Linked DNA regions of Homo sapiens. The protein of the gene in region 1 binds, or shares a complex with, the protein of each later gene. Each region holds a gene or a part of one and is shown in the gene's direction. Other genes may lie near its edges.

The links.
Region 2: CALM3 (region 1) and KCMF1 share a complex: the UniProt entries of both Homo sapiens proteins name them as parts of the SIFI complex.

What each region holds. Positions count from the first base shown.
Region 1 is NC_000019.10:46,595,615-46,606,498, forward strand, and holds the start of CALM3 (calmodulin-3), read left to right. Parts: upstream 1-5,715; 5' UTR 5,716-5,820; coding exon 5,821-5,823; intron 5,824-6,454; exon of another isoform or gene 6,455-6,593; coding exon of another isoform or gene 6,594-6,596; intron 6,597-6,982; exon of another isoform or gene 6,983-7,025; intron 7,026-10,212; coding exon 10,213-10,243; intron 10,244-10,884. UniProt on the Homo sapiens protein: Calmodulin acts as part of a calcium signal transduction pathway by mediating the control of a large number of enzymes, ion channels, aquaporins and other proteins through calcium-binding. Calcium-binding is required for the activation of calmodulin.
Region 2 is NC_000002.12:85,042,735-85,053,762, forward strand, and holds part of KCMF1 (E3 ubiquitin-protein ligase KCMF1), read left to right. Parts: intron 1-829; coding exon 830-931; intron 932-3,369; coding exon 3,370-3,544; intron 3,545-6,631; coding exon 6,632-6,914; intron 6,915-10,413; coding exon 10,414-10,675; 3' UTR 10,676-11,028. UniProt on the Homo sapiens protein: E3 ubiquitin-protein ligase which accepts ubiquitin from an E2 ubiquitin-conjugating enzyme and then transfers it to targeted substrates, promoting their degradation by the proteasome.

The sequences.
Region 1 (10,884 bases):
ACCCTGTCTCTACTAAAAATACAAAAATAGCCAGGCGTGGTGGCAAGCACCTATAGTCCCAGCTACTCGGGGGCTGAGGCAGGAGAATCGCTTGAACCAGGCTGCAGGGAGCCAAGATCGCACCACTGCACTCCAGCCTGGGCAACAGAGCGAGATTCTATCTCAAAAAAAAAAAAAAAACCAACTGTGTTATCCTCTCACTGAATATACCCCTTTATCATTGTACAGTGACCTGCTCTGTTTCTTTTCACAAGCTTGGAATTGTAGTCTCTTTTATCTGATACCATATATAGATACCAAGTATAGCTACCCCTGCTTTTTTTTTTTTTTTTTTTTTTGGTTTCCAGTTGCACGGAATATCTTTCTCTAACTCTTCACTTTCAGTCTAAGTGTGTCTTTATAGGTGAACTGGGTTTCTTGTAGACAGCATAGAGTTGGGCCTTTTTTCTTTTTTCTTTCGAGACAAGGTTTGTGGCCCAGGCTGGAGTACAGTGGGGAAATCTCGGCTCACTGCTATCTCCGCCTCCCAGTATCAAGTGATCCTCCCACATCAGCCTCCTGAGTAGTCAGGAATACAAGTGCACGCCAGCCACCACGCCCAGCAAATTTTTTTTTTTTTTTTTTTGGTAGAGACGAGGTTCACTATGTTGCCCAGGCTGGTCTCCAACTCCTGAGCTCAAGCAATCTTCCTGCCTTGGCCTCCCAAAGTGCTTGGATTACAGGCATGAGCCACCATGCCTGGCCTGGGTCTTATTCTTTATCCATTCAGCCACTTTATGCCTTTTAATTGGATAATTTATTTCCTTAACATTCATGTTATTATTGATAAGTAAGGACTTACTACTGCTATTTTGTTGCTTATTTTCTGGTTGTTTTCTTCCTTCTTTTTTTTTTTTTTGAGACAGAGTCTTGCTCTGTCGCCCAGTCATGACTGCAGTGGCGCGATCTCGACTCACTGCAACCTCTGCCTCCCGGGTTCAAGCAATTCTCCTGCATCAGCCTCCCGAGTAGCTGGGACTACAGGCACCCACCACCACACTCACCTAATTTTTGTATTTTTAGTAGAGACGGGGTTTTGCCACGTTGGCCAAGTGGATCTCGAACTCTTGACCTCAAGTGATCCGCCTCCCTCGGCCTCCCATAGTTCTGGGATTACAGGCGTGAACCACCATGCCTGGCCCCCTTTTTTTCTTTCTTACTGTCTTCCTTTGTGGTTAAGTGATTTTCTCTGGTAGTATGTTTTAACTTGTTACTTTTTATTTTTATTGAATCTATTATAGGTTTTTGCATTGTGGTTACCTTAAGGCTTATAAAAAAATCTTATAACAAGTTTTTTGTTTTTTGTTTTTTTTTGAGATGAAGTTTCATTTTTATTGCCCAGGCTGGAGTGCAATGGCACAATCTCGGCTCACCACAACCTCCGCCTCCCAGGTTCAAGCGATTCTCCTGCCTCAGTCTCCCGAGTAGCTGGAATTACAGGCATGTGCCACCACGCCCGGCTAATTTTTTGTATTTTTAGTAGAGAAGCGGTTTCTCTATGTTAGTCAGGCTGATCTCGAACTCCCGACCTCAGGTGATCCGCCTGCTTCAGCCTCCCAAAGTGCTGGGATTATAGGTGTGGGCCACCGTGCCTGGCCCCCTTTTTTCCTTTCTTACTGTCTTCCTTTGTGGTTAAGTGATTTTCTCTGGTAGTACGTTTTAACTTGCTACTTTTTATTTTTATTGAATCTATTATAGGTTTTTGCATTGTGGTTACCTTGAGGCTTCTAAAAAAAATCTTATAACAAGTTATTTTAAAGCGATAACATCTTAGATCACAAAGAAAAAAATAGAAACAATGAATAAAAACTCCACACTTTATCTCCTTCCCTCCCACATTTTGACTTTTTGTTTCCTCAATTTACATATTTTTATTTTGCTTGTCTTTTAACAAGCTGCTATAGCTATTATTGTTTTAATTATGGGGTCTTACTGTGTTGCTCAGACTGGCCTCAAACTCCTAGGTTCAAGTGATCCTCCTGCCTCAGCCTCCCAAGTAGCTGAGACTACACCCAGCTCAATATTATTGTTTTTGATAGATTTGTCTTTGAGGCTTTATGGTAGAGTTAAGAATGAATTGCATACCACAATTACAGTATTGGAGTATCCTGGGTTTCTCTGTGCACCTAATTTTACCAATGGGTTTTATACCTTCAAATATTTTCTTTGGCCAGGAATGATGGCTCACACCTGTAATCCCAACACTTTAGGAGGCCAATGGGGGAAGACTGCTTGAGCTCAGGAATTCGAGACCAGCCTGGGCAACATGGCAAAACCCCATCTCTACCAGAAAGAAAATACAAAAATTAGCCAGGCATGGTGGTGTGCACCTGTAGTCCCAGCTACTCAGGAGGCTGAGGTGGGAGGATCACTGGAGCCTGGCAGTTTGAGGCTGCAGTAAGCTATGATTGGGCCACTGCACTCCATCCTGGGTGATAGAGCAAGATCGTGTCTCAAAAAAAATTTTTTTTCTTTTTGCATGGTTTTTTTTTTTTCCGGATTGAGGAACTCTCTGGAACTGTCTTTCTTCAAGAGAGCATTTCTTATAATACAGATCTGGTAGTGGTGAATTCTCTCTGCTTTTATTTGGGAAAAACTTTATCTCTTCTTCATATTTGAATAATAGCTTTGCTTGATACAGTATTCTTGTATGGCCTTCATGGTTTTGATTGAGAAGTCTGTGGCCAGGTAAATTAGAGCTCTTTTAAGTGTTATTTCCTTCTTTTCTCTTACTGTTTCTAGGATCCTCTCTTTGTTCTTGACCTTTGAGAGTTTGATTATTATATGCCTTGGGGTAATCAAATCTATTTGGTGTTCTCTGGCCTTTCTGTACCTGGATATTTGCAATTTTTGAATGTCTTCCATTGTTTCTTTGAATATCCTTTCTATCCCCTTGCTCCTCCTCAGCTCCCTCTTGAACACCAATAATTCTTAGATTTTGTCTTCTATATTTCGTAGGTGATTTCCATTCCTTTCATTCTTTTTTCTTTTTTCTTCTGTATGTATTTACAAACAGCCCGTCTCCAAGTTCACTGATTGTTTCCTCTGCTTGACCCACTCTGCTGTTGAGAACCTCTAATGAACTTTTCAGTTCAGCAAATGTATTTCTCAGTTCTAAGATTTGTTTGGGTTTTTTTTAAATTATTATTTCAATCTCTTTGTTAAATTTCACTGATAAATTTCTGCGTTGCTTTTCTATGTCGTCTTGGAATTCACTGAGTTTCCTTAAAAATGCCATTTTGAATTCTTAGAAAGCTCACATATTACTGTCTTGTTAGGTTTAGTCACTGGTCCCTTACTTGGTCCATTTGGGGAGCTCATGGTTCCCTGTTTGCTTTGGTTTGTTGTTAATGTACATCTATGCCTTTGCACTGAAGGATTAGTCACTTATTCCAGCCTTCTCCGTCTGGCTTGTTTTGGCTTTTACTGGCTCCATTTGCTTACAGATTCTTCGTAATTGACCTGTTGGTTTCTTTTTTTCTGCTAGGTTGCTGCCTCCTTTTTAGCACTCAGTGGCACCTTAAAACCAGGTTTGCCTTGGCTCTATTAAAGATCAGAGCGTCTCCCATCCCGAATGGGGGAGGTCCCAAAGGGGATATCCCAGTAGCATAGGAAAGCTGGCTAGGGGTTCATTCCCAGGGGAGCTATGGAAGAAACCTCCCACAGCATGGTGCTAACGAACAGCCACTCTGATTTGGCATCTCCTTTGGCCAAGTTATAGAGTAGAGAGAGTTTCCAGGGCTGGGGATGGTAGTCCCACCTCCCCACTTTGTCTGTGGCTATTCTCAGAGGATATTTCTCCCTTGAGGCACTCCTGATGGTTGTATTCTTGTGATTACAGCACTTTGGGAGGCCAAGGCAGGCGGATCACTTGAGCTCAAGAGTTTGAGACCAGCCTGGCCAACATGGTGAAACCCTGTCTTTACTAAAAATACAAAAATTAGCCAAGTGTAGTGGTGGGTGCCTGTAGTCCCAACTACTTGGGAGGCTGAGGCAGGAGAATCGCTTAAACCTGGGAGGCGGAGGTTGTAGTGAGCCAAGATCATGCCACTGCACTCTAGCCTATGTGACAGAGCAAGACTCCGTCTCAAAAAAAATACAGATCTTGTGTGAACTAACAGAATAAGAACTCACTTGTTACCGTGAGGACAGCACCAAGTCATTCATGAGGGATCCACCCCTATGACCCAAACACCTCCCACCAGGCCCCACCTCCAACATTGGTGATCACATTTTAACATGAGATTTGAGACTGAGTAACAAGTGTTAGGATTAAAGGCATGAGCCACCGCGCCCGGCCATCTTCTTTACCTCTCCACTGTGTCAGTTTTATTTTTCTCTTCTTCTCTAGACACTTTGTTCCTCAAGATAGGGGGCAGAGTGGGAAAATGACCATAGTCAGAATCTATGGGAAGGACCCACCCAAAAGGAAAAGGCTTCTTGTGCCCAGGCTGCAGATCCAAACCCCAGGGAAGGACTCTCATTGGTTCAGTCTCCATTCTGTTCCAGGTGGAGCATAATGATTGGTCCAGCCTGACTCGTTTGCCCATCTCTTAACCATCAACATGGTGGGGAGGGGACACGCAGGAGACTGTCAGCTCCTATCCTAAACGGGGGAGGGGGCAGGGGTGATCATTTTCTGAGCTCCTATAAACAAAGTTTCAGTTCTTTTTCCTCCTATGGCTGGAACACTGGAATAAGGAAAGAGGTCGTCTGTCTGGAGAGGCTGGTTGGGGAGTATGGTCTCCCCAGCCCAGCCAAGCTCAGGTCCCTGCATACAGCAGGCGCCTAATTGATGCTTATAGCACGAATGACTGAATGAATACCCCGTTCCCACAGGCTGTCCTGGGATGGTCCTAATTTCACAGACCCTGAGCGGATCAAGAATGAAGCGGGCCCAGGGGTCCCGCCCACCGGCTGAGTGCGTCTTAGGACGCAGAGACAAGACCACGGAGGGCGGAACCTCTGAGCGTTAGGTGGCACCTTGGAGACCCCGCCACCTCCAAAGGCCCAGTTAGGGGCGGAGCTTCTAAACCCTAGCATTTTGGATTGAACCATCGTCCGTCGGTTAAAGGGGAGAGCCGAGAAAGCCCTTCTGCATTTGTCGCCAGCCTTTTTACCACCTCCTGGCCACAGAAACGACGTATTTGCTTCTCTAACGGCGACGCCGTTTCCCCCTTCGCCTCGTTACTCCTCAAAGCCCCACGCGGCCACAGAGTTCAGACTTACCCACCACCACCTTGCAGTGGCTCGCCCCAGTTTGACGCATTGCAGGGAAGGTCGGACCAATGGGCGCCAAGCTCTCATTTCCGCCATGGGCCAGGCCCAATAGTGACGCGGCTCACAGAGGGACGCGTCACGCACCGCCGAGCTGTGCCCCTCCGCCGAAGAAAGTGAAGTGGGCCCGGGAGGCGGGGCGCGCGGCGAGGGAAAGTAGTCCGGCGACGGGAGCGAGCGCGCGCGCGCCCGGCGGCAAACCCAATTCCTGTGCAGGGTGGGGACGAGAGATTCGCGGGCCCGTAGGTGTGGAGCGGGGCGCGGAGGGATCCGTGGGAGCCGCAGTGCGGCGGCGCGCGGGCCGGGTGGGGCGGGGCCGAGCGAGGCGGGGCGCGCGCGGCGGCCGTTGAGGGACCGTTGGGGCGGGAGGCGGCGGCGGCGGCGGCGCGCGCTGCGGGCAGTGAGTGTGGAGGCGCGGACGCGCGGCGGAGCTGGAACTGCTGCAGCTGCTGCCGCCGCCGGAGGAACCTTGATCCCCGTGCTCCGGACACCCCGGGCCTCGCCATGGTGAGTGAGGCTGGGGGGTCGCCGAGGCTGCGGGCTCTGAGGCGGGCTTAACGGGGCAGGACCCCTGAGGGGGCGACAGAGCCCAGAGTGGGGGGCGTCCGGGCCCGGCGAGAGCCTCGGGACCCTTTTCTACCCGCGTTGTCGGGGGCTGTTGAACCCAGAGCGGGACGTCTGGATCACCAGAGGTTTCCAGAAGCGACTTTAGCACCAAATGGGATGTTTAAGTCCACAAATGGGTATCTGAGCCCCTAAAGGGGACATTTGAACCCCGGATGGAGGATCGGGACCCTCAGTGGGACCCCTCAAAAGGATTTTGGACCCAGGATGGGGCGTTGGGTTTCAGGATGGAGGTGTTTGGACCCCAGGGGACGAAATAAGAAAGATGGGCTGGGGAGGGGAGCTATTCGGGCCCTGATGAAGGCGTTTGGTCCTGAGAGGATGCGGGGAACGGGGGACGAAGGGAGGCTGGGCTGCTCCTGGATGGGGTGGTGGAGGGTAGCTGGGCCCGGGCGGGGAGGGGCGACCCCTGGGCTCCTGTGGAGCAGAGGAGAGGGTCAAGGATGGGCGGTCACTTCTACAGATGAGACTCCCGAGGGTGGGGGAGGGTGGGGGAGGGTGGTCTCCAGAGCCCAGCACTGCAGAGGAGGAGGAGGGTGAGGTGCAAGCTTATGGGAGGAAGAGCCTGGGGTGGGTGGCAGCGGAGATTAGAAGATACTCTTGAAGGCTTCCGGGACGGAGAAGGATCAGGGTCGTGGAGGTGGTGAAAAGGGATGGTGAGAGTGGGGCTCGCCAGTAGTCGGGGGACAGGGACCCTTGGGGTTAATTTGGAAGTAGCTAGAAAAGGTTCCGAGGTTACTAGTGGGTTAAGACTGTTGCTCTAGAAAGACAGAATTTTTTTAACGGGGTGGGAGTGTTGTGTTTGGGTCCAAGAGAAGATGGATTTCCAAGGTGAGGGGTGGGGGAGGACTTGGGCTTGGGTGGTTGGGAGGTGAGGTGGAAGGAGAAAATGAATGGCAGTCAGGGGGGCCTAGGTTTGGGGGTGGATGTGGGTAGCACCCTGCCAGTCTCCAGGGACAGGCCAGGACAAAGACGGCTCAGTGTGGATGGGGAGTGGGCTGCAGGGCCCGGAGGAAGCTTTTCTACCGTCCTCCTTCCTCAGGAAGAACGCGGCTGGGTGGAAGACACCGGGGCAGTGGGAGCAGGTGGGCGGAGCTGTTCGGGCCCCTATTGCGCACTGAAGCCTCATGAAATGGGGATGGGAGATCAAAGTTTGGGGTGCCTCGAATGAGCCAGCTTTTTCAAGCCTAGAAGCCTCACTCTGTCGCTGCCCTTTTCAGGCCAAGAGCACTGCCTTTTCCCAGCAGGAGCGCCGGTTTTCTCATGATCCCCAGCCCCACGCACCATGCTGCACCTCGTCACTTGTGCCAAATGACAGTGCAGTACAGTGTGGCGTCAGTGACAATCAGATGCCTATTCCCGTGCCCTCGGGGTGGGGGCTGCAGAGCTTGATCAGAGAGTGCCTCTGGGGAGACCCCTTGATCGGCCTGAGGGCCACTTGTTCCATTCAGGGCCCTCGCTGAGCGTGTCTGTTAATTCACAGGGCTTTGAGAGAAAACCAGCAGACTAGTTCTTTCCTACTCCCTGCCACCCACAACACCCACAGCCCCACCAGGCTGAGCCTGGGAACCGTGTGCAGCCATCCTCCCTGGCAAGGCTGGGGAGAACAGGCAGCCGCTGCTGTGTATCAGATCTCATACTTGCTGACACAGACCTGATGGCTCCTCTTGCCGCTACCCCATTTTCCCCCAGCAGAACCTGGCTAAAAGGGGCCCTGAAGCACTAGCAGGCCCCCTACCTCCAGAATAGGACCCAAGCTTTGGCCACAACTAGTTTCTCTTTCTGTTTGTAATCAGCAAGGTAGAGGTGGGACAAGTCACTGGTAACTGGCCTTGGACTTTGGCCTGAGCTCTGTGGCTCCTCCTTGGCCCGGGTGAGGGGCCCTGGCCTTGGTTTCTGATCTCATCTAACACTGCTCTCTGGCATTGGCTGGGGGCTGGGGCAAGGCAGAGAAATCACACCCTCTTCCCTCCCCCACCTCATGGTTTTTTTTCTTGTCCAGCCCCTTGCTGGAGCCTAAGATGAGGGATAAGGAAGCAGGAGACCAGCTGAGTTATTTTGGAAACAGTTTTTGTTGAAAGTTTAGTCTTCAGGTCTAGAAAGGGAAGAAACCTTGAGCAAGGATCAATGATATCTTCTTAGGCGGTCGGTTTTCTGGGCGGCAACCTTGCTTGAGATCTGTACCTTTCCTTGACCAAGCAGGGAAGTGGGTCTCCAACATGGGAGGGAGAGCATCTGACAGGCCCTCCATGCAGAGCCACGCCTATTTGCAGCAACCCTGTGACAGAACTGAACATGGCAGTGCCTCATCTGCATCTTCCAGTCTTTTGGTGGAGACTGGCAAACGGTGGCCTTCAGAGCCGCTCGGGGCAGTCTGCAGCCTGTCACAGCCTCCTCGCCCCCACCCCCAGCCCCTTACAGTGCTGCCCAAAGGTCCGGGGAGCTGGACTTCTTGCAGGGCGGAACAGTGGGCTGGGAAGGCCCTGACCTGGCTCGCTTTTTCCATTCTAGGCCAGGGGAAAGAATGAAAAGCAGATGGGATGGCAGCCACCTCCCCACACTGCTGCCCTCCTCTCTGTTCTTTCCCTGACCCTCCCTGGGCATTGCCTGGTCTCGGTAACCAGAAGCCCATCCTCCCTTCTCACTTTCCCTAAGCCTCTTCCTCAGGTGTCAGGACCTAAGGGATGGCTCCAGGCTTTTTTGTCCATGGTGGGAGGTGGGGGGCAGGTGGATCAAGAGGCTCATGGGCCTGGGGCTACCAGGTTGGCATTTAGAAGCCCAACCACCCTGTCTTTTTTGAAGGCAATGCAGAAGAATCTTCATTTGGCCTCCCCACCTCCCCTTTACACTTTGGACTTTTCCAGAATGTGCATGTGTGCCGTTTTCTCCCTTCCTCTTTCCCCCTCCCTAAGCCCTCTCCCCTCTGTGATCATCATTTTGATTACCCCTCCCATTCTGCCTATTTGGGGCTTGCAAGTTCTTCTTCCGTTAGGTTTTTTTTTTTTTTTTCTAACTTTTTTAGATCAGTGATTGTTAATATTTGGGACGGGGATGGGGGTAGGGGAGGCAGGCAGTGGTTTGTTCCTAGCTTCTGGAACCTCTCCGTAGAATACTGCAAATTCACATAATAGTCTGCTTCTATTTCTGAGGCTCTCAGACTCGAGACTAGAACATGCTATAGACTTGGAGCCCCTTTCCCTGATTGTGAAAGGAAGGGGAACAGACCCACCATGGTCCCGGGATGGTGGTGCCTTCTTCACAGCATCAACAAAAACCAGGGAAAATGTGTCTTTTGGCTGCTAAAGCTAAATGTTGGGATTCAGCCTCCCCAACCCCCCAGCCCCGCTCCTGCCCCATAGGATCACTATGCCTGGCTGATGCCCAGCACACCAGTGCAGGAGAAGCCAGTCCCCGCATCTCCTCCCCACCCCCAAACCCCGCATGCAGCAAGGGCTGCCTGCCACCCACTGGCCAGTCCCCAGAGTGCCCAAGCTGGAAAGGGTTAAAAACTGCAGTGCAAGCCAGCTTCAGTCCTCTGCTGCTGCCCGCTGCAGCCCTCTCCCTGACGTTTGTCCCTTCTGCCCAAAAGAAACAAAACAGAATGGCCCTGTGCCCTCACTGTGCGCAGGGGGTGGAGCGCCTGCCTCCAGCCTGACCAGAGTTCTTTAGGTGCTTGAGCAACTCGGGCCGCCGGTTAGGAGAATTTTTGCCACTTGGGTGGACTCTGCCTGAGCCAACCGCCTCCAAATAGGTGACACAGAAACTAGCAGAGATAGCCCCAGACATCGTCCCTCTGCCCTACCCAAGGACTGGCCTGCTTCAGTTTGGAGCCTTCTAGAGCTTCTTGATGAGGCCTCCAGGGCAATCGTTCCCTTCACTCGGCCTCTGGGGCTCTCACTGATGAGATGCAAACCTGTGCCAGGCCTCACCAGCGCTGCTGGTTTGGGGCTGGGGCAGGCTTTTCTCCCGCCCCTGTGGCTCCCACATGCTGAGTTGAGATTGGAAGCCCGTGGGTCTGGGCAGCTTCATCGGGCCGTGCGTCCAGCAGGCCTGAGTGTCCAGCCCACCCTGGTACCCAGCTTTCTGAATCACCAGACTTTATCATCAGGCGCTGGCTCTGCCTCAGACCCTGACTCTGGCATGCTCCTCCCTGGCCCGGCGGGAATGGCACGTGGAGCTGGCCTCACTGGGGCCGAGGGTCTGGGCTGAGTGAGGAAGATGCGTCCGTGCTGTCCGGCCTGGTGACTGACTTTCCCCTTCATGCTTTTACAGGCTGACCAGCTGACTGAGGAGCAGATTGCAGGTGAGTCTGCTATCCCCCTCATCTTAGCTCAGGAAAGCCTCCACATCCCCAGCCAAATCTTAGCCACTGAGGAGTGACATCTGATGGGTGAACCTGTGTATCCCTTGTGTCACCTAACACTATGCCTTGTGCCTAGAATGCTGATAAATGTGTGTAAGAGCACACCAGTGCCCCAATGACACGAAGCCCCATGGCCCTGAGACAGGCCTTTACCAGACACCAAAGGCTGTGTTCCTCTCCTGGGCCTGGGTCATCTAGGGGCTTGATATCAGTGGCTGCAGGACGAGCCCAACTCTCTCTCCCAGCTTCAGCCAGGTTGGCTTAGAAGGTGAGCTCCCTGCCTCCCTGTGGGGCCTGCAGAGCTCCTGTCCCACTTTAGGAGCCGCCCAGGAGCTGGCTCGTCACTCCCACCTCTGCGCTTGCCTGCGCTTTGCACTTCCTTTCGCATGTGCCTGCGCCTGCCTGTTCTGCTGGCGGAAGTGCCTCCCCAGTGCTTTGCATGGGCAGCTCCTTCCCGTCCCTTAGCTCAGATGTCCCCTCGGGGAGGCCTTCCCTGACCCCCATCTCAAGTACACAGCCTTCCTTTACTCTCCTTCACATCACTTTATTTTCTTCATAACCTTTCTCGCTGTCTGAAATTA
Region 2 (11,028 bases), on another chromosome or scaffold:
AGGGCCTTTCCTCTTTAAAACGTTCCTCATTCTTTCTAGCCTTCCCCTCTCCTTCCCTCTGTTTCACCAATTCTGTTAACTATAGAAACCACCTTCCCAACCTGTCACCCGCTCCCCGAACTGTGACTGTGTACACACCATTTTATTCCTACTTTCTCCCATCTCTTGCCAAGAGGCCCATGGAAAGTTGTTCTACTACTCCTTGAGCCTGACCTGGTTACAAGCTTCTGGCCTACCACCCCATTTCTTCAGGAAATAAGGTTTAAAAATGGGCTTCCATACCATATTCCCCTTGGAAGTCACATTCATAAATTTATAGACCACATTTGCATATTATCAGTAATCATAATTTGTCTTACATTCAACATGTCTGTTGAATGTTTGCACAGTTGCATTTAATCAGATCTCTGCTGTCTTATTTGGGAATTGGCTCTCAAGTATAGCTTGCTTTGGAGAAGTGTGCCATAGGCTTGTATCTGTCTTTACCATTCAAGACTGGACTTACACGTAAATGTGCACTAAATAGCACATTTTAAAGTTTTTTTTAATGGAAACTATTTTGCTAGACCATACAAATGAATCAGGCAGGCTGTTAGAAGGCCCTGCCAGAGATCAAGTTTGGTGTGTCTGAAACTGTTGTGTTTGACCCTGAGGGACCTTGTGTGAACAGTTCTTGCTTAGGTTTCTACTGCTTTTCACTGATTTAGGATCTGCTGTGTTTTCTGTTGGTTAAAACTTGATAATAGTAAAACTTACAGCAGAATACTCGTCCAGAAAGATGTCTTATTGACGTTCATTTATTAAGCTGCTTTCTTTACTTCCATTTCAGATTTGTCCAATATGTGCAGCGTTACCTGGAGGCGATCCTAATCATGTCACGGATGACTTTGCAGCTCATCTTACACTTGAACACAGAGCCCCTAGAGATTTAATATCCTTTTAAGAGATGACAAGGAAAAGAGTTGTTTGTAATGTTTGTCATTTTGATTTTTTGTTTTGGAGACAAGATCTCGCTGTGTCGACCTGGCTGGTCTCAAACTCCTGAGCTCAAGTGATCCTCCTGCTTCAGCCTCTTGAGTAGCTGGGACTATAGGCACACATGTGCCACTGCATCCAGCTTGTCATTTTGATTTTTTTTAAGGATCATATCCCCCAAAAGAGGAAAAGTAATGTCCAAATTATTTTTACTTATTTGAACTTTTCCTAAAAGTGACTCAGTGCTGAGATGCAATTTATTTCTCTTTTTATATACTATCACCATTGTATGAACCATTTTCATTAAGTGAAAGTTGACTTGTCCTTCATCTTTAGTTCATTACAATTAGATTTTTTTTAAGGCAGTTTGACCAAATTGTGTCTTCCAGGATGGCGTTTTCATACAAAAGAGGAAAATGTTAATCCAAATTAAAATTTAATTAGTTAAATATGAAGAGGCATTATTTGCTTTCCCTCTCTGTTCCTCTGCTGCCTTACCCTGTTGTGGGTGTGGTGTGGTGAGATGGTGGGGACAGGTGTGCATCTTGGTGTTCCTTTCCTTTTTGGGGTCCCCTTCTCCAGAGAGAGCCATTTCCTGCCGAGTTCCTGAGTAGGATAGCATAAGGTCAGCTCTAGCTTTAAATTTCCTTTCCTGCTTTTCTTTTCTTTTCTTTTTTTTTTAAAAGTCGGAGTCTTGCTCTGTCAGCCAGGCTGGAGTACAATGGTGCTATCTTCAGCTTATTGCAACCTCCACCTCCTGGATTCAAGTAATTCTCCTGCCTCAGCCTCCCAAGTAGCTAAGATTACAGGTGCCCGCCACCACACCCAGCTAATTTTTGTATTTTTAGTAGAGATGGGGTTTCACCATATTGGCCAGGCTGGTCTCTTGGCCATGCTGGTCTTGAACTCCTGACTGCCTGCCTCAGCCTCCCAAAGTGCTGGGATTACAGGCATGAACCACTGCGCCTGGCCAATTTTTGTATTTTTTTAGTAGAGATGGGGTTTCACCATGTTGGCCAGGCTGGTCTCGAACTCCTGACCTCAGGTGATCTGCCCACCTCAGCTTCCCAAAGTGCTGGGATTCAGGCGTGAGCCACCACGCCCAGCCTCTTGCTTTTATTTCTGCATTCCCTTCCTTGTCTCTCAACAGTTTCTGGCAGTGTTCCCTGAGATTACTGGCCTACCAGAGCGATTAATTTTGTGGACTCAATGCTTCTGATTTCAGGTTATGAATTGTTCGTCTAAAACTGTCACCAGCTGGGTACAGTGGCTCATGCCTATACTCCCAGCACTTTGAAAGGCCAAGGTGGGAGGATCACTTGAGCCTAGAAGTTTGAAACCAACCTGGACAACATAGGAAGACCCCATCTCTACCAAAATAATGAGCTCAGCTGGTGGCACACACCTGTGGTCCCAGCTACTCAAGAGGCTGAGGTAGGAGGATCACTTGAGCCCATGAGCTCAAGGCTGCAGTAAGCTATGATTGCACCACTGCACTCCAGCCTGGCAACAAAGTGAGACCCTGTCTCAAGATACATATATATATGTATATATAATCATAATATAAAATTATCAAATATATAAATATGATCATATCACTTTCTCTAGAACCCAAACCATCCTCATGAATATGATGGAACAGGGCATGTACCGTGACACCTGAAGGCCTCTTGGAGCTACCCATCCGGTCCTTAAATAACTCCAGAACCATCAGCTGAAAAACTGAGAAGCCAGCCAAAAAATTAATCTGCATTATAAAGCTGGTCTGTTTGGTACTTTAAAGGAAAAATCTCTTCTATATGATCTGGCCTCCCCCACCTCTCATTTGCCTTTGTGGAAACGTAAGGTTGTCTTCATGAGTTTTGACAGCTATTTGCAACTCAGGACCTTTTTCAGTTTGACTTACACTCAGCTGTGTAAGACGGTTGAGGCTGCTGGGAATTTTTCTTCGTGATAAATGTCATGTTAATCTATCTGTGTGTCTTATACAAGAAATGCAAATCTGTTTTCTGCTTAGCAGCGGCATTGGAAAGAAGCTTGAAGACAGAGTAAAACTAATAATCCAAAAGGAACCTTTGATGTGCTGAATATACATTCAGTATTGTTCCTTTTTCATTATAGGTGGTATTTGAGATTTCATGAGCTATATAGAGAAACTTTTTTACCTCACACACCCAATACACACACACACACTCACATGTTGCCTTACATTTGAGTGTCTTTTTAGGGTTAATAGCCCTCATAGATAGAGTTGGGACATTTGCACTTTAAGTTAAATGTGCTGTTTTTAAATGCTTACAATTCAGGAAATCTTTACATCTGTCTAGCAAGGACTCAGGTGATTTTTTTTCTTTCTGTGAAATACTTTCGTTTTTTTCTTAACTTTTGGGTTATGATGAATCGAGTGGTGTTCGACATGTACGTAGAATGTTTCACCCTGGCCGGGGATTAGGAGGTCCTCGTGCTCGTAGATCAAACATGCACTTTACTAGCAGTTCTACTGGTGGACTTTCTTCTTCTCAGAGTTCATATTCTCCAAGCAATAGGGAAGCCATGGATCCTATAGCTGGTAAGTTAGTTTCACATTAATAAGGGAAATGGCAGGGGAAGGAGGAGCTCCTTTTAAAACTTTTTGTGATGCCAGGTGCGGTGGCTCACACCTTTAATCCCAGCACTCTGGGAGGCTGGAGCGGGTGGATCACTTGAGGCCAGGAATTCAAGACCAGCCTGGCCAACATGGCAAAACTCCATCTCTACTAAAAATAAAAAAATTAGCCAGATTTGGTGGTGGGTGCCTGTAATCGCAGCTACTCTGGATGCTGAGGCATGAGAATCGCTTGAGCCTGAAAGGTGGAGGTTCCAGGGAGCCGAGATCGCACCACTGCAGTCCAGCCTGGGTGATGGAGTGAGACCCTGTCTCAAAAAAAAAAAAAAAAACTTTTTGTGAGATTTGTGTTCTTAAGTCTCACCTCTCTGATCATAAGCCATGTTCCTTCACAAAATTCCCAAATACATTAAAAGTGTAAAATGTGTTAAAAGCAGACACTTAACATAAAGTAATTCATACTCTTCTGGCATTGCTTAAGTCCAGTAGTCCCCCCGTCATGTGGTTTTGCTTTCCTGGGTTTCAGTTACCCACAACCAACTACAGTCAAAAAATAGGTGAGTACAGGACAATAAGATACTTAGAGAGAGACCACATCACATAACTTTCATAGTATATTTTTAGATTTACTCTATTTTGTTGGGAATCTCATGTTCCTAATTTATAAATTAGGTGCCTAATTTATAAATTAAACTTTAGCACAACAGATAAGTATGTATAGGAAAAAACATAGTATGTATAGGGTTCTGTATTATCCAAATGCCCATTTCAGCCATTCACTGGGGGTTTTGGAACGTATCTCCTGCAGGTAAAGGGAGACTACTGTTCTTAGAGACAAAAGATGATAAGAAATGGTTTTATGTTGTATTTGTGGCCTCTATTGAAGCCCAAGGAAATCATAAAAGATTTCAACTTGAATACCTCCAAAATGTCATGGTTAAATCTCCATAAGTACACATAAAAAAATGTCCAAAGCACATTTGAAATTAAGGTTTTATAAGGTATAGCTAACATTTTTAAGAACATGTTATGTGTAAAATTCTGTCACAGATTTATGCCTATCTCAGATGTTGTGCAAGGCGCCTCATGGCTTCCAGGTACACATTCCACCACATGGACACATTTCAGAACTGTTATCTATAGCTAATTGAAAAGACTAAAGAATTAAGCTCTTCTCATGGAAGAAAGGAAAGTAGGACTTAATGTCCTGACCTTGATTTGAGAACTATATTGTTGTAGAACATACTGAAAGGTACATGTTTAATAGCTTGGGAAAAATCTTAAAAAAAAAAAAAAAAACACAGTTTTTGAACCTGGCCATGTCACTGAGTCTAGTACATGACAAACCTAGGAAGTTGGTAGCAGAACACAGGGTCAAAATAAAATACAAGAAATCACTGTAGCCTGATAATCTGCAAGACACACCAAGCAGACAAGTGGTAAGACAGTGGGAAGTGTGCACACATTTAAAGCAACAATTCTGAAATGTGTCCATGTGGTGAAGTGTGCACCTACCTGGAAGCCATGAGCACCCTGCAGAACACCTGAAACATTGATAAGTGTAAATCTGTAATAGAAACTGAGAACATCAGAGCTAAATGACAACTTAGGAACACAAAGGAGGAGACAGCAGACACTGGGGGAGGGTAGCAAGAGAGAGAGGAGCAGAAAGATAACTGTTGGGTACTGGGCTTAATTGGGTCCTGGGTGATGTAATAATATGTATGACAAACCCTCGTGGCAGGTGTTTAACTGTGTAACGGACCTTCACATGTACCCCCAAACCTAAAATAAAAATTTAAAAAAGAAAAACAACCTAAGAACAATTTTATACCTATCATGTTATTTAAAAGTTAGATATACCATATAAAATTTTAATTCCAAATGTGCTTTGGACATTTGTGTGTGCAACAACAAAAACAAGCCTAATAAACTGAGTTTGGGGGATTTAAAAAATATTTCTTCATCCAAAGGGAATATTTACCTGCTATTTTGGTGGCAGGCACTAAAAATTAAAGTAGTTTCTGGGAGCAAAATTCAAAATTGAGAAATTTTCTTCATTTGATTTTTTTTCTGTCAGTGAAAATTAGTTTATTTTAGTGATAGACTGTATATTCCATGAAAGAGTGGTATAAGAGTGCTATAAAAAGCCTGGGATAAAGCAACAGTGAGCAAGAAAACAAACTGTTAATGAGTTTTAATGATAAAGAGTTTTTGCTGGCCTGAAAGTGTCTGCAAGGCAGTCATCGATTCCCTATAAGCGAGGTGGACCCTCCACTTGGAAGAAGGCATTTCACTGTACCTTACTTAGATGAGGATGCGGGGACAAAAGTTTACACCTCTCTTAATGAGTACAGCCTTATGGACACAAGACAGTCTGGATCATAACAGGCCACTAAGTAGGCTGTACAGTCAGATGCAGCAGGTTCTCAGGAGCCAGTCAGCCTTGCTGAGCACTGGTAGTGGTATCTACTGCAGTGGTACTCTGAAACAGCAGTACCAGAAGGTACTAGAGGGAGAAAGCAGAGGCAGAGAGTGTGCAAGGGCCACCATCAGAAATGATCCAGGCCTCTTGGACTGAATCCTAATAATTCATTCAGTCATTCAGTAAATGTTTGAATTCCTGCTATATCAGGCCCTGTTCTGATAGCTGGGAATATAGTCAACAGTAGACCTCATCCCTGCTTCCATGGAACACATATTGAGAGAGCTTATATTATAATTGGGCCCACAGATAAACCACTTCATTAAATACTAAGAGAAAGCTTCACTAAATTAGTCTATTATGCAAATAATTTTAAAGACAATTTAAGTTTTACTTCAAACATAATTCAGTCTGGGTTAATATTCGTATGCATTTGCATTCTCTGTCCACAGTAACTCCTGCCTTCAGGAGGCATTCTAGAAGGATTCAGCTCTTAAACTGTGTGCTGTGGTGGTTACCTACCTGTTCACAATGCTTTTGATGTTGTTCCAGTAAAAGAGTGATCTGTAGCGTTTTGTTTTCCTCAGTATTAAGCAGACATTAATTGTCTTCATTTCCATTGGCAGAGCTTTTATCTCAGTTATCAGGAGTGAGACGTTCTGCAGGAGGACAGCTTAATTCCTCTGGCCCTTCCGCTTCTCAGTTACAACAACTGCAGATGCAGCTGCAGCTAGAACGGCAGCATGCCCAGGCAGCACGGCAACAACTGGAGACCGCACGCAACGCAACCCGGCGTACTAACACAAGCAGTGTCACCACTACAATCACACAATCCACAGCAACAACCAACATAGCTAATACAGAAAGCAGTCAGCAGACTCTACAGAATTCCCAGTTTCTTTTAACAAGGTAGCTCATTTGTTAATAGAATTTTGTTTGGGAAGTAATATTTTATTGCCACTACAGTCTGGAATTATCTTTTCTCTTTTGTGCATTATATTTCTTTAAAATTTTGTGTTTGATTAAAACTCACAGATCTCTGATTAAAACGCATATTCAGTATTTCCCCAAGAATGTGAAACATAGTAATTATTTTAGATAAATTAAGAATACTGGGCCAGACCCAGTGGCTCACACCTGTAATCCCAGCACCTCACACCTGTAATCCCAGCACTTTGGGAGGCCAAGGCAAGCAGATCGCCAGAGCCCAGGAGTTCCAAACCACCCTGGGTAACATGATGAAATCTTATCTCTACAAAAATGAGCCAGGTGTGATGGTGCGCACCTGTAGTCCCCGCTACTCAGGAGGCTGAGGTGGGAGGATCGCTTGAGCCCTGGAGACAGAGGTTGCAGTAGCCAAGATTGCACCATGCACTCCAGCCTGGGTGACAAGAGTGAGACCCTGTCTCTAAAATAAAATAACTGGTCTTGTTCTCAAGGTATATATCATCATATAATATGAATTGTTTTGCCATAGTACCCATAAAACTTAAACACTATATCATTATATATATATGGTTCATATTAGGTGTATTTATCATAATTAACGTTGCTTGTTATTGCCAGTTTTAATCTGCTTTGAAATATTAAAAGTATAAGAAGGATTTCATAATACAGTGGCAGTTTTCTCCTGTGAATTTCTAAAAAAGCTAGATTTAAATTTTTATGGTTGGCACACAAAAGTAACTTAAAAAAATGGCTTCCTATGGTATAAATAATATTTAGTAAAACAGTAAACTACTCTACTAGATGGAGTTCTTGTTTGCTTCTGAAACTGTTAGCAACTGCATGTATTTGTCTGCCAAAACTTCACAGGCATTTTATGTGACTTTTAGGAATATAAAGAATTCTTAAAAGAGCAATGATGAGTGGAGACTTAGCCTCAACAGATAATGAACCTGGACTAATTGGGCTTTTAAGGGAGCAGAGAGGAACATAAAGGAAGAACTGTAAAATGAAGAATAAAGTTTGTGTAATACATGATTATTTCCAAAATGCAGTGTGTATGACAATTCATTGGGATGTTAGAGGAAAATATTATAATTTCTACTTATGTTTCTTTTATCTCATACTCTGTTAATACAGTGGTGCATGTGTATAGTTATAAATAACATATTGTGGGTGCAGAATAAAAAATGCTTGAAAATCCCTGGGCTAGAGCCCCAGCTTTGCCAATTACAAGTTTTGGACCTCAGGCAAGTCATTTCACTCCTCCAAACCTCAATTTTATCATCAGTATCCCAGAAGTTTTGCCTTTAGAGAGATAATTATTTTGAGGATTAAATGGAATACTGGTATGTGTATGGTCTGGCTCACTATCTGGCCTATAGTAAAGGTCCAATTAATGGTACTCGTTATCAACATTTGTTATGAAACCAAGAAAAACATTTTAAATGGGTAATTTACCTTTGAATTATCTCTGCAAGGTCAGTAACTGTGCCTGGTTATTACCAGATAATGCTGCTTTAATGTAAGAAAACCACAGAGCCACAGATGGAGCTACCTGCTGCCATGTAGCCTTCCCCATAGGGACTGACCAGCAGCAGGTCTATAACATACCAGATCTAAGTCCCTACCTCAAAAAGGAGATCTACTAGCGTGCATTTCTACTGAGAGTTCACAGAACTGTGGGTGGAATGTCTTGCCAGTGCCCTTTGGAAAAGACATCTTCCTACCCACCCTTGCCCTATCCTTTTTTTTTTTAAGACCCAAACTACTCAGCTTGATCTGTAATTTTTTTCTGTGCATTTATTCCACACCCAACTCTCAGAGCATGGTATGAGTGACCTCTGAGTGCTGTCTGTGGATTCTGGTTGTAGCTTCTTGAAATCCCCCTTCTATCATCTGATACTGTACATTCTATGGTACCATGCAGTTTGCAAACCACTTTCCACATCTTTTATTGTATTATATTCATATGATTTATTTAAGGCAATATTTCCCCAGAAATACTCTCTTAACTTCATATATTCAAAGGAATATATGTAATTACTTATGTTCTTCCACCCCCAATTAATAAGGTTGCAGAAAGCAAAGTAAGGAAAATTAAGAGATTATTTACTGTTGGGCTTCTTAGAACTTCAAATATATTAACATGCATTGTGAATTTTCAAGGCAAGGAGAACGGCTGCAGTGTATGCAGGGGAGATCCTGCTCTCTGGTCACACAGCTCTTATGTGATATATATAGGGCCCAAGCCTTATTTTTGGTCTTTTCTTTGACCAGGGGCAGTTCCTATTCATGTTGCCCTGCAACTGATGGTAAGGTCACAGTTTCTTTGAAGTCCAAGATAGTTGACCTTTTAGAAAGTGATTATTGGAGTGTGTAAGTCAGATCGGTCTTTTTTTGAGATAGAATTTCGCTCTTGTTGCCCAAGCTGGAGTGCAATGGCACGATCTCGGCTCACTGCAACCACCGCCTCCCAGGTTTAAGCGATTCTCCTACTTCAGCCTCCCGAGTAGCTGGGATTATAGGCACGCACCCCCACACCTGGCTAATTTTTTGTATTTTTAGTAGAAATGGGGTTTCACCACATTAGCCAGGCTGGTCTCAAACTCCTGACCTCAGGTGATCCGCCCGCCTTGGCCTCCCAAAGTGCTGGGATTACAGTCATGAGCCACCGTGCCTGGCCAGATCTAATCTTTTGACAGTGGGACCAGTTCATTTTGCTAACCCCAACTTGAAGATCCTCACAAGCCTTGCAGTTTCATTTATATCCTAAATGTTATATTTCATCAAGAAATTTGTCTAGTCTCTGTGCAGATGAGCCAGGTTTCCCAGCATAGCCCAGATCTCATAAGTACATGCATCAGGGGAGCAAGTCAGGCAGGTAGACCTTGTGTCTGCCCTGCTACACTGTAGGTCCTTGGTAGAAGAAATGTAGGAGTTTGTATGTATGTGTTTTCTTGCCCTTTCTAGCTTCTGCATATACCAAGAAGAATTAAATAGAGTAATAGAGAAAAGTCAGAGGAAATCTTAGGATATTTTTCAGTTGAATATTCTGTTCACTGCAGATTTTGTTTTTGTGTTTTATTTTCCTCTTTTTATTTACCCCCAGATGAAATTCTGGTTAGATACTTTCCCAAGCATCTAATCTGTAAGAAATCCTGTTTTCCTTAGAAAATTTTCACCTAGCTTTCTCTGGAGTGGAAAAAGTCTAAATGTCTTTTTTTTTCTCATTGAGTCTAATTAAAGCATAGATTTGCACCTCCAGGTAACAGTATTGCAACAAGTGTGGGGAATTCGTCTCAACACAATTAAGGATAAATTACAGCCAAGTATTCCAGCAATGTCTCATTCTGAATTTTGCCACCTGTAAAACTTCACAGTGGAGAGCACTGTAGAAATTGGCCATGCCATTGTTCATTGACTTTTTAACAATAAGGTCTTTTCTTTTTAACTTACACAGGTTGAATGATCCTAAAATGTCTGAAACGGAGCGCCAGTCCATGGAAAGCGAGCGTGCAGACCGCAGCCTGTTTGTCCAAGAGCTCCTTCTGTCCACTTTAGTGCGTGAAGAGAGCTCATCCTCAGATGAGGATGATCGGGGGGAGATGGCAGATTTTGGTGCTATGGGCTGTGTAGATATTATGCCTTTAGATGTTGCTTTAGAAAACCTAAATTTAAAAGAGAGTAATAAAGGAAATGAGCCTCCACCACCTCCTCTTTGATGACATCCCAATTCGCAGACAATGTCCTCTGTGCTGTATTTGCCAATGAAAGTGGACAACAACTATCTTGGGTTTGTTTGGTGATTGTAATTTCAGGTCTGTCACTCTTGTTACATTGTGTACATTCAAAAGGAAGAGAGAAAATATATATGATAATCATTTCCACTTAACTAATTTTTACTTCTAGCAGGTAAATGTAGGTAGCAGTGCAGGGGTGATCTCTGCTTCCTGTACCTTGACATGCAAAAGGCTCTCCTAATACTCCACATTCAAACTGAAGAGGAAAATTGAAATCTCTAATGAAGCTGCTGTGTGTATTTATGAATATTAATGAATAAAAACTGCTTGGATGG